Homo sapiens: one gene and its partners. The protein of the gene in region 1 purifies or fractionates together with the protein of each later gene. This does not show direct contact. Each region holds a gene or a part of one and is shown on either strand. Other genes may lie near its edges.

Evidence for each region.
Region 2: the proteins of SCFD2 (region 1) and GRK2 purify together in Homo sapiens (affinity purification with mass spectrometry; one large-scale study listed by BioGRID and IntAct). This does not show direct contact.
Region 3: the proteins of SCFD2 (region 1) and NAPA purify together in Homo sapiens (affinity purification with mass spectrometry; 2 studies listed by BioGRID and IntAct, with this or other methods). This does not show direct contact.

What each region holds. Positions count from the first base shown.
Region 1 is NC_000004.12:53,271,950-53,275,599, reverse strand, and holds part of SCFD2 (sec1 family domain-containing protein 2), read left to right. Parts: intron 1-1,598; coding exon 1,599-1,774; intron 1,775-3,650. UniProt on the Homo sapiens protein: May be involved in protein transport.
Region 2 is NC_000011.10:67,283,441-67,287,174, reverse strand, and holds the end of GRK2 (beta-adrenergic receptor kinase 1), read right to left. Parts: intron 3,469-3,734; coding exon 3,402-3,468; intron 3,322-3,401; coding exon 3,226-3,321; intron 2,965-3,225; coding exon 2,802-2,964; intron 2,329-2,801; coding exon 2,192-2,328; intron 2,101-2,191; coding exon 1,987-2,100; intron 1,890-1,986; coding exon 1,725-1,889; 3' UTR 619-1,724; downstream 1-618. UniProt on the Homo sapiens protein: Specifically phosphorylates the agonist-occupied form of the beta-adrenergic and closely related receptors, probably inducing a desensitization of them. Key regulator of LPAR1 signaling.
Region 3 is NC_000019.10:47,501,498-47,505,147, forward strand, and holds part of NAPA (alpha-soluble NSF attachment protein), read right to left. Parts: intron 2,006-3,650; coding exon 1,926-2,005; intron 101-1,925; exon of another isoform or gene 1-100. UniProt on the Homo sapiens protein: Required for vesicular transport between the endoplasmic reticulum and the Golgi apparatus. Together with GNA12 promotes CDH5 localization to plasma membrane.

The DNA of each region.
Region 1 (3,650 bases):
TTATCCAACCATATCCATTTGTCAAAATTCATAGAACTGTACACTAGAAAAGGCTGAATTTTACTGTATGTAGAAAATACCTTAATAAACCTGATAAAGAAACAAAGTATTAATGAGGTTTTTTTCTATGAGTACTTGAGCAAGCAGATTGTTAGCTTGCTGCTTTGAGAATCAGGAACAAACCCATGCTTTACCAAGGGACCAAAGAAACTCATGAGACTCACCCTCCTACTTATTCCCACTGTTCTTTTTCTTTAAATGCTTACCCTGATAAACTGGTAATGAAGAACTTAAACATTCTTTATCTCTTCAAAAAAATTAATGAAAAGATAGAAAGATATGTTGTAGGCTTTTGAGTTTCATGTGGCAAGGTCTTTACTTTTAGCAAAAACCATTTATTAAGTGATATCTGCCATTTAGCACTGGGTAAGACATTACTTTCTTAGCACGTCAGGCAGGACTAATAGATGCAGCACAAGCCTCGTTTTCTACCTCAAGGAGTTGCCATGAGAATCAGTAAAGGGTGTGTTTGTGTAAGCACTGTGTAAATTGCTAAATAAATGCAGGTGGTTTCATTGCCAAATACTTAACAAGCAAATAACTTGGATTTCAGTTTATAACAAGTTTATAACAAGCAAATAAACTTGGATTTCAGTATCAAAGAACAACCCACAAACATGGCATGGGTGAAACATATAGGAATGAATTACTTGGCTTACATCTATGTTTGGCCCCATTGCCTTTTTGCCTGGTGGGGAGAATCCGATGTCCAAGAGCTTTGCGCATAGCATGGAGGAATGGCAGGAATGAAATTTTACAGACTGGAGAGTGGGAGGAGACTCGGTGGAAAGACAGCTATTGGCAAAACTTGGAGTTAGGGGCTCTGAAGGAGTGAATCCTCAACAGTTTGTGTGTTTGTAGATGTACAAGTGTTTGTATAGTCTCTATGCTTTTATGAGGTAGGCTCTCTTGTTCTAAATGTAGGTGACCATTGTAGCAAATGTGCTGTTCCCCACACCAACCCTTTCTTCTGATACCTCCTCTTCCAGTGGTTTTGCACTGTAGTTCTTGATACATTTTTGTTCCATGTAACTGCTTTTATCTCACGAATATTGTCATGAACTCACTGATATCAATGGTAAAGTTTTAGATGAGAAATAATCTATTTCTCATCTTCTTTTAGGTACATACACACACAATTAGAAATCTTATCTTTTTCCCTCTTAGATTGCTATGTCATATGTCATAAAGAGGTACTCCAAGTTGAGCTCAACAAATATTTATTTGTGTGACTTTATTTGAAAATTTATTTACAGAGTATTACATAATGATAAAATGAATTCTACTGGCAACATGACCTTGGCCAGATCCCTTAATTAGCATCCCTGTTTCCTTACTTGCAAAATGCAGGTATTAATAATAGGACCAGTTTTGCTCTTGTCACTATATAGTTGTAAGAATCACAATAGCTTAGGAAAGCTTGCAGTCAGCTCTGAAGTTCTGCCCAAATACAAGACAGTGGTATTATTAATGGAATCCTTCTCATTATTTGTACTATTCCCAGAAGGGGGTACACTGATAAATTCTTATGTTTCCAGGGAGAGTCACACCGGGACAGCTCATGTCCTATATTCAGCTCTTCAAGAACAACCTCAAAGCTCTAATGAATCATTGTGGCCTCCTCCAGCTTGGACTGGCCACAGCTCAAACGTTGAAACACCCACAGACTGCCAAGTGGGACAACTTTCTGGCTTTTGAAAGGCTCCTTCTTCAGGTATGTTGCTATGGGAACCTCGTGGGATCTTAATAATTAATGTTTTGACTTCCAGAGAAAAACCTTGACATTTATTATAGCCTTAGTAATAAATCATATTGTTGACATGTGCCCTGCTTCATATTCTCTAAGTGCCCCCTAGTTAAAATTCAAGTAGAAACTTTTTTCACACCTGTTTAAAAAAAAATTTTGACAGTAACATCTTTGGCTTCTCATTTAATACCAAGGATGTTTTTTGAGCATTGGACTAACCTCTGGACACCTCTTTCAATTTTATGCCATTTGGACCTTTCTTGCTCTTCATGGCATCTTTATTTGATCCTTGCTACTTTTTCTGTAACATATTATCGCTATTTACATTTCTTCTGACATTACCTAGTTTCTAGTCCTTAAGCAACATATAGCATGTGTCTTAAAATGGCGTTTAGTAAAAAATGAAGGAAGTGATCTCCATTTGTAGTGTTTATACAGATATTTGTATGTGGGATAGGAACTTTTCATGACTGATGAAATATTTTCATGGGAAACTTTTAAAAAAATATGTAGTATGTGTTTTTTAAAATTATGAAGTATTTTTAAAAATTATACAGTACTTTAAAAAGGACAGAGGATTGTGAAGCATAAATGTACATAAAATGGCAAGTATCTGTAAACTTTCCACATAGACTCAATATGATTTATCATTATTTTCATATTTATCATGGATCCTTTTTCATTAAAGAAATAAAACTAGAGATAAAGTTGAAGCATTTTTGATACTATATAACCATCTCTAATCTGATTTTCCTTTTTCTTTCCCTAGAGATAATTACAAGCTCAATTCACTGTTTTTATATTTTTATTAGATGTTTGCTTTCTCATAAATAATATAGAGCATTTATGCTATGGGTTTTAATTTTACATAAGTGATATTATACTATAAATATCCCTAAATAGCTTGCTTTTTTCTCTCAAGGTTCTATTTTTTTTTAATTATACTTTAAGTTTTAGGGTACATGTGCACAACGTGCAGGTTAGTTACATATGTATACATGTGCCACGTTGATGTGCTGCACCCATTAACTCACGTCATTTAACATTAGGTATATCTCCTAATGCTATCCCTCTCCCCTTCCCCCCACCCCACAACAGGCCCCGGTATGTGATGTTCCCCTTCCTGTGTCCATGTATTCTCATTTTTCAATTCCCACCTATGAGTGAGAACATGCGGTGTTTGGTTTTTTGTCCTTGCGATAGTTTGCTGAGAATGATGGTTTCCAGCTTCATCCATGTCCTTACAAAGGACATGAGCTCATCCTTTTTTATGGCTGCATAGTGTTCCATGGTGTGTATGTGCCACATTTTCTTAATCCAGTCTATCATTGTTGGACATTTGGGTTGGTTCCAAGTCTTTGCTATTGTGAATAGTGCTGCAATAAACATACGTGTGCATGTGTCTTTATAGCGGCATGATTTCTAATCCTTTGGGTATATACCCAGTAATGGGATGGCTGGGTCAAATGGTATTTCTAGTTCTAGATCCCTGAGGAATTGCCACACCAACTTCCACAATGGTTGCACTAGTTTACAGTGCCAACAGTGTAAAAGTGTTCCTATTTCTCCACATCCTTTCCAGCACCTGTTGTTTCCTGACTTTTTAATGATCGCCATTCTAACTGGTGTGAGATGGTATCTCATTGTGGTTTTGATTTGCATTTCTCCGATGGCCAGTGATGATGACCATTTTTTCATGTGTCTTATGGCTGCATAAATGTCTTCTTTTGAGAAGTGTCTGTTCATATCCTTTGCCCACTTTTTGATGAGGTTGTTTGTTTTTTTCTTGTAAATGTGTTTGAGTTCATTGTAGATTCTGGATATTAGCCATTTGTCAGATGAG
Region 2 (3,734 bases), on another chromosome or scaffold:
TTTAGTCACCCGCGGGGCTAGGGCAGGGACCTGGGGAAAGGGAAGTTGACCAGAAGCCTCTGGGTAGAGGAGAGGCCTAGTGCTGGGGTTCCCCTCAGGCCTCAGGGACCCCTACTAGGGCTGTGCAGTGAGGCCAGAGAGGAGGCTGAAGCCAGAGATGGCCAAGGGCCCAGAGGCTGCGGTGTGACCTAGAGGGAAGAGGTGCCTTGTGACTGTTTCTGGGGAGGGGCCTCAGCTTGGTGCCTGCTGTGCAGGGGTGTTCTGTGGGCCTGAGACGGTCCCAGTCAGCCCAGACACTGTGCCAGGCCTAACACTGTTGGCACCTCCTCCTGCTTACCTGGGAAGTGGCAGAAGCTGCTCTCTCCTCCCCGGGAAAAGGTGAGGAATGGGCACTGGACAGCCACTAGGTGGAGAGGACTGTCAGCTGGGAGGGGTAGGAGGGGAAGTGGGACCCACTGCCTCACCCCACCTGGAAGATGGCCTGGGCCCGAGCAGACCACCTTGGAAGCCATGGCGGTGGAGGAGACCTGGTACCACCGAGACCCTCCCCATCAGGCCCCAGCCCAGCAGAAGCTGAAAAGGGGTCACCAGGTACAAAAAGAGTCTGAGACAGCCGAATCAGGCACCATTTTTTATAAAAACGCATAGTCTCATTTTTCACTCTTTAAAATCACATTCAAAAATCGGCAAAGAAACGCCCCGGGGAATGAGTAGACGGGAGGGGAGGGTGCGCCAACCCAGCCCCGGGGGGGAGAAGGCGCGACACCACACAGGCAGCGCGACTGGCACGAGGGGGCATGCGGTGGGCGAGGCGGCGGCACTGACAGGACGTGGGCTGTGGGGCTGGCCAGCCTGGGCGGGGGTACACTGATGGGCCAGGATGGGGGGCACACTGATAGGCCCCAGCCAGCCTCCTTGCTGTGCTGCCCGCCCACCTGGCCGGCCCCGTCCTGGGCAGATGGGGTCGCACCCAGCCCAGCATCAGCGAGACCTCAGGCCAGGCGAGGCCAGTATGGCCCAACCTGCAGGTGCCTTGCTGTGGTCCCTGAGCCCGGGTGCTGGGGGTTGGGGCAAGAGGGGACAGCAGGGAGGGTAGCAGCACCTGCTGCCAATGCCACTCTCTCAGCCAAGCCCCGCAGTGTCAGGGAAGTGGGAGTGGAGGCAGCCAGTGACACAGAGGCTTTTCCTGAATAAGGGCACAGGAGCCCGAGTCACTGTGGGAGGCCTTGAGGGCCAGGGAGACAACGGGCCCCTCCTCTCGCCAACACTGTGGAGCAGGACAGTGCAGGGCCTGCCCCTCTGCAGCAGGAGGGGGTGCAGTGGGAAAATTCAAGTCGGATCCCTGTGCTGTGCCTGCCCCTGGTGAGGGGGGATGGGCCACCCAGCAGTGCCCATGGGCACAGAGTGCAGCCCACAGAGCCCAGGGTGGCACAGCTTGGTGTGGCATCATCCCTCGGGGAAGGGGCGGGAGGGCTGTGCTCTTCCCCCACAGGAAGACACTGGGAGCGGGCAGCCCCTGAAGTCAGGACAGAGGGCGCCGGGCAGCGGCTGGGTTGGTGCAGCAGGAGCCGAGGCAAGCGGGCCCCTCCCGGGGGAGCTGGGCCAGGCTGGGGCCACGGGAAATCACAATAATTACAAAATAAAACCTTTTCCGCTTGGCGGGAAAACAAATAATAAAAATTCGACAAAATAAATTAGAGGTTTATAAAAGGCGGGTGGGCGGGTCAGAGGCCGTTGGCACTGCCGCGCTGGACCAGCGGCACCTTGCTCAGCTCCACCACGGGCGAGCGCGGCTTGTTCTTCATCTTGGGCACCCGCTGCACCAGCTGCTGGGCCTCGCGGTAGGCGTCGCGCAGCTCCTTCTTCCACTGCACCAGCTCAGGGTCGCTCTGCACATGCCAAGCCCAGCTCTGTCAGCTGGGGCTCTCCCCAGCCTGCCTGGCCTGGCCCCTCGGCCCTCCCATCCCTGGCTCAGCCCCCACTCACATCGCACTGCAAAATGAACTGTTTCCCACCGCGGATCTTGAGGAGCAGGCACTTGCGCTCCTTGATCTGCGTCTCCTCCACCGACTGGATCTCCTCCATGGTCAGCAGGCTCTGCTGCAGGGCCAGGGATGGGTGGTGCAGGTAAGAGCCGGGCCGGCCAGCCACCCGGAAGCCCGGCTCCCGGACCCCCGCACGGGCTCCTTACCGGGGCCTCGCCCTCGCCCCGCCACTCGAGGCGGTTGGGGAACAGGTAGAAGTACCGCCGCTGCCACTGGGTCAGGAAGGGGTTGCCCATCTTGGACATGTAGCCATGCATGATGCAGTCCTTGCCCAGGGCGTAGTCTGAGGCGAGAGACAGAGGAGACTCAGCCGGCCCCACCTGGGTTTCTTTTTTGTTTTGAGACAGGGTCTCCACTCTGTTGCCCAGGCTGGAGGGCTGTGGCACAATCTTGGCTCACTGCAACCTCCACCTCCCAGGTTCAAACGATCCTCCCGCCTCAGCCTCCCGGGTAGCTGGGAGTACAGGCGCGTGCCACCATGCCCGGCTAATTTTTTTGGTATTTTTTGGTAGAGACAGGGTTTCACCATGTTGGCCAGGCTGGTCTCAAACTCCTGACCTCAAGTGATCTGCGCTCCTTGGCCTCCCAAAGTGCTGGGATTACAGGCGTGAGCCACCATGCCCGGCCCCAGCCTGAGTTTGAATCCCAGAGCCGCCACTTTCTGGCTGTGATCCAGGGTGAGTTCCTTAAACCCGAGCCAGCTGCTCACTTCTAAGCAGGCAGGGGCCTGGTGCCGCAGCAGCCGGCGACCCTCACCTTCCTCATGGCCCAGCTGCTTGTTCTTGGCTTTCTTGCGAGCCTCCAGCCGGTCTGTCTCAGCGTTGATGGTGTCGAAGACAGTCTCTGCCACCTCCTGCTGCCACCGCTCCGAGATGGTGAGGGGGAAGTTGCGGTAGAGCTCCTGATCACTGTCCAGTAACTTTACCAGGTGGATGGGGCAGGGGCACATGGGTGGACAGAGATGCCGGAATACCATCAGCCACAGGCTGCCCAGACCCAGGGCCCTGGGTAGGGATGGTCAGTGCAACTGCCACCCCCCAGGGAAGTTGGCCAAGGAGGAACTGAGGCCTACAAGCTGGCAGGGCTGGCACAGGGTCTCACAGGTGATAAGAAGGGAGAGGGATCCTTCCCCAGGCCAGGATCACAGCCTAGGTACAAGAGGCCAGGCAAGGCCCAGTACCTTGATTCCTTTTGTGTCCTCCTCATCGAAGGAGCCAATGTCGAAGGCGTCGGCCGCGTTCACCTCCCCTCGTGGGGGGATCAGCGGGGGAGGGTACTGCAGCAGAACAGGGGTCATGGGCATTAGCTCGGGGGTGGGGCTGCAGAGCACCCCCAGTCCCTGCCGCAGACTGTTACCTTCTGCAAGAAGACCATCTGCCAGTCCAGGGAGCGGAAAAAGGGGCTCTCTTTCACCTCCTGAGCCCTGTGGGGAGAGGCCAGTCATCTGGGCTCAGCCCCACCCTGAGTCCCGGGCTTAACTCCTGATTGAGCCACTTTCTGGCTCTGTGAACTTGGGCAAGTTCCTTAAGCCTGAGCTGTTTCCTCATCTCTCAAATGGGAGAACAGAAGTTCCTACATCGTAGGGTTGTGGGTTTTAACACTGGTAAATTTTGCAACCCTATGCCCAGTGCTTAATAAATGTTTGATAAACATAAAAAGCTGCTATCATCATCATCTGTGACAAGGGCC
Region 3 (3,650 bases), on another chromosome or scaffold:
GGAGTTGGGGTCGGACAACACAGAGCCGGCTCCCTCCAGGAGCTGCATGTCCAGAGAGGGAAACAGGATGTGGACAGCAAGAATGAATACATGCAGACCAGTGCCCATGGGCGGAGGGCAGAAGAGACCGTGCCTGAAGCCTCATCCATCCTGTGCTCATCTGCACACGGTCAGCTTCTGTGGGTCCCAAGCCATTCTGCCCACACATCTCCTAACTGACGTTTGGGAGGCAGCAGCATCTCTCCTCCTCCTCGTGCAGCTGACCACCTCCAGCTCAGCTCTGAGGCTTCTCCCCTTCATTCTCCTCCAGCTGAATCTGAGTCAGAGTTTCTAAGCTGGAAGAGGACCAGGAGGCCTGGCCCTATCCTCTTAAGTTTTGAGCAGCAGAAAAGACAAAGCCTTCCGGGTTTTCACTATATGATTTCATTATTTTCAAGAGTTCCAAATTTGAGTATAAAATTACGGCCAGGCGCGGTGGCTCATGCCTGTAATCCCAGCACTTTGGGAGGCCGAGGTGGGCGGATCACGAGATCAGGAGATGGAGACCATCCTGGACAACATGGTAAAACTCTGTCTCTACTAAAAATACAAAAATAAGCTGGGCGTAGTGGCACGTGCCTGTAATCCCAGCTAGTCAAGAGGCTGAGGCAGGAGAATCACTTGAACCAGGGAGGCGGAGGTTGCAGTGAGCCAAGATCGCGCCACTGCACTCCAGCCTGGCAACAGAGCAAGACTGTCTCAAAAAAAAAAAAAAAAAAAAAAAAAAAAAAATTTCAAGAAAAGGGGATATTACCGGGGGGAAATGGCCTAGGGCTTTTCTTTGAAGAGTTTGGGGGCAGAGGTAACAAATTTTAGGGGAAAAGCAACACCTATGTAATTAAAAAATAAGCTTTTTTTCTCTAGAGGAATTTTCTAAGTTTGGGAGCATAAAAATACAAAAAACATTTGGCTTTATTCACAACGTATTTTGTGAAAACTCAGGAATAACTCTTTGAATTTTGGGGAAACCAACAACATTCTCAAAAACGATGATAATCAATTTTATTGTGCACCTCTGCACCCTGCCTCCATGGTCCCACCACCAGGTTCCCTCTCCTCCACAGTCAGAAGTTCCTCCCTGCATTCAAACACTGGGTCTCTTGCCGTATTTCCTTAATTCAATCTTGGTGACATGAAAGATGTATGATGAAATGAGCCTCGAAAGGGCTCAACACACTGGCTTGTTGGACTTCTTGGGCCTGCAGGGAGCTCCAAACAGATCTCCAGCCTCCCTGAGCCCAAGGGGCTCCTCCCCACCCCTCTCCTCTGTGAAGCTATCCTGCCTCACTGGGGCAGGTTAAACACTCAGGCTCTGCAGTCAGAGCCTTGGTTTCTGAATCTTGGTTCTGTCACTTACTAGTTCTGGCATCCTGGGCAAGAGACTAAGCCAAGCCTCAGTTTCCAAATCTGTAAAATAGGGATATTTATAGACTGACCCTTAGGGCTGCTGTGCTAACGCAATTAAATGATGAGCACTTAGGACTCAACAAACAGCAGCCATGATTCACGTTGTTATTGGAATCACCTGAACATCCTCCCCCAGCCTAGAATTTAGACACTGATGGAAGCACTAAGGAAGTTACCAGGAAACCTGAAGTTCTGAATTTAAGGAGGACTCTAAGAGCTCATCAATCCACATGGGTTTATCTAGGTCTAATAATCTATTTATTCCCATCCTCTCTGTCCTTTCACCAAGGCCCCATGACCCAGAGTATAAAGTAACCCAGCAGGCACAAAACAAGAGAGCAGGCCAGTGGCTTTCCGATGCCGGAGAGGGCATACAAAGAGAAAGGGCCCTCAAGGCCAACCTCTCGGGCAGGCCTGTGTGAGTGGAAGCTGAGGGAGGAGGAGAGCACCTTGGAGGAGCTCTAGCGGAGATGACATACCACTCCAGTTTTTGGCCATTTTGAACATGTTTGCTGCTCTGGCGTAGATTTCGCATGCTTCCTCTATTTTGGATGAGCCTCTGGGGAAAAAGGAAAGAAAAAAAGGAGACAATCTAGTCGGCTATCCAGGAGAAAGCAAGCATTCTGCTCCAGTGCCGGGCACAGACGTGCCCCTACCCCTCACCCTTCACCTGTGAAGCCAGCTTCCCCCAGGCCTCTTGAGTCTGTGGCCCCCGCCCCTGCATACAATGGCACACTCACTTCGGGCAGACCAGCTCCCTCCGGGAGTACTGGGGTAGATACTGGGTGCTTGCTGGGGTAGTGGGGCGAAGAGTTCCTGACCCCACCACAACCCCAGGGTCTGACAGCCTCTTCTACTTCCTGCCTGGGATACTAGGGGCCCACTGGGTCCCAGGCGCGCTACAAATCCCCTTTCCCCGGGAGACTGCAAAGCATTCTGGGGGACTAGCCCAGTTTAAGACATCGTGTTGCTTTCGCAGAGGCAGCCTTAATCCTGTGCCTTGCACTCTGTGGTTGCTCAATAAAGACCTTGCAGCCCTGGAGTGTGTCATTACCAGCTCAGGACTGGGCATATATATCACACAGCCATACAAAGAAATGGGAAGCACTATTTTAAAGTGTAGATATAAGATGTTCCCATTTGTGTTTAAAAAAAAAAGAGGGTGGGCTGGGTGTGGTGGTTCATGGCTCCTGTAATCCCAACACTTTGGGAGGCCAAGGTTGGCGGATTGCTTGAGCTCAAGAGTTCGAGACCAGCCTGGGCCACACGGCAAAACCCCAACTCTACAAAAAATACAAAAAATTAGCAGGGTGTGATGGTGCACGCCTGTAGTCCTAGCTACTAGAGAGGCTGATGTGGGAGGATCACTTGAGCCTGGGAGGCAGAGGTTGCAGTAAGCCAAGATCACACCATTGAACTCCAGCCTGGACGACGACAGAGCCAGACCTTGTCTCAAAAAAAAAAAAAAAAAAAAAAAGAGAAAGAGAGTGAAAATAATAGAAACATACATGTTTATATAAACATAGGATATTTCTGGGCAAATACACAAAAACCTAGTAACAGCATTTTTCTCTTAAGGTGAAGCCTGCAGAAGGAGGGCCAGGTGTGGGAGGCAGACTTATTCACTGGACATCCCGTATTTGTACTGTCTGAATTTTTTTTTAACTGTTTGTACATCTTTTCGAGAAAAAAAATATATACATATATACACACACGTGTACATATATACACATGTGTATATATGTGTATGTGTATATATGTGTGTATATATCTATACATTTACACATACACAGACACACACACACACATATTTTTAAGTATTAGGATTTATATTTGGCCCTGTGGTCCAGCAATGAATTACATCTCTAGCAATTTATCCTAAAAAAACTAATCAGAAAAGTTACAAGGATGTTCAGCATAGCATTATTTAAAACAGCAAAACCCCCCAAAAACTTATTGTCCAACAGTAGGGATACACTGGGAGATAGACAGGAATTTGAAAACATAAAGGGTACCCTGTTTGGGCAGCTTCACTCTGGCTTCTTGACCTCCACATGTACATAATGAGCCTCCTCTTGACTTGGGGGACCTCATTAGTACCTCAAACCCGTAAGTCCCACTGCATTCTTCTGCCCTTAATAATACAACCAGGCTTAGCCCGCGAGGTCTGTAGTCTCTGTAACTGCTCAAACTCCCAATATCTA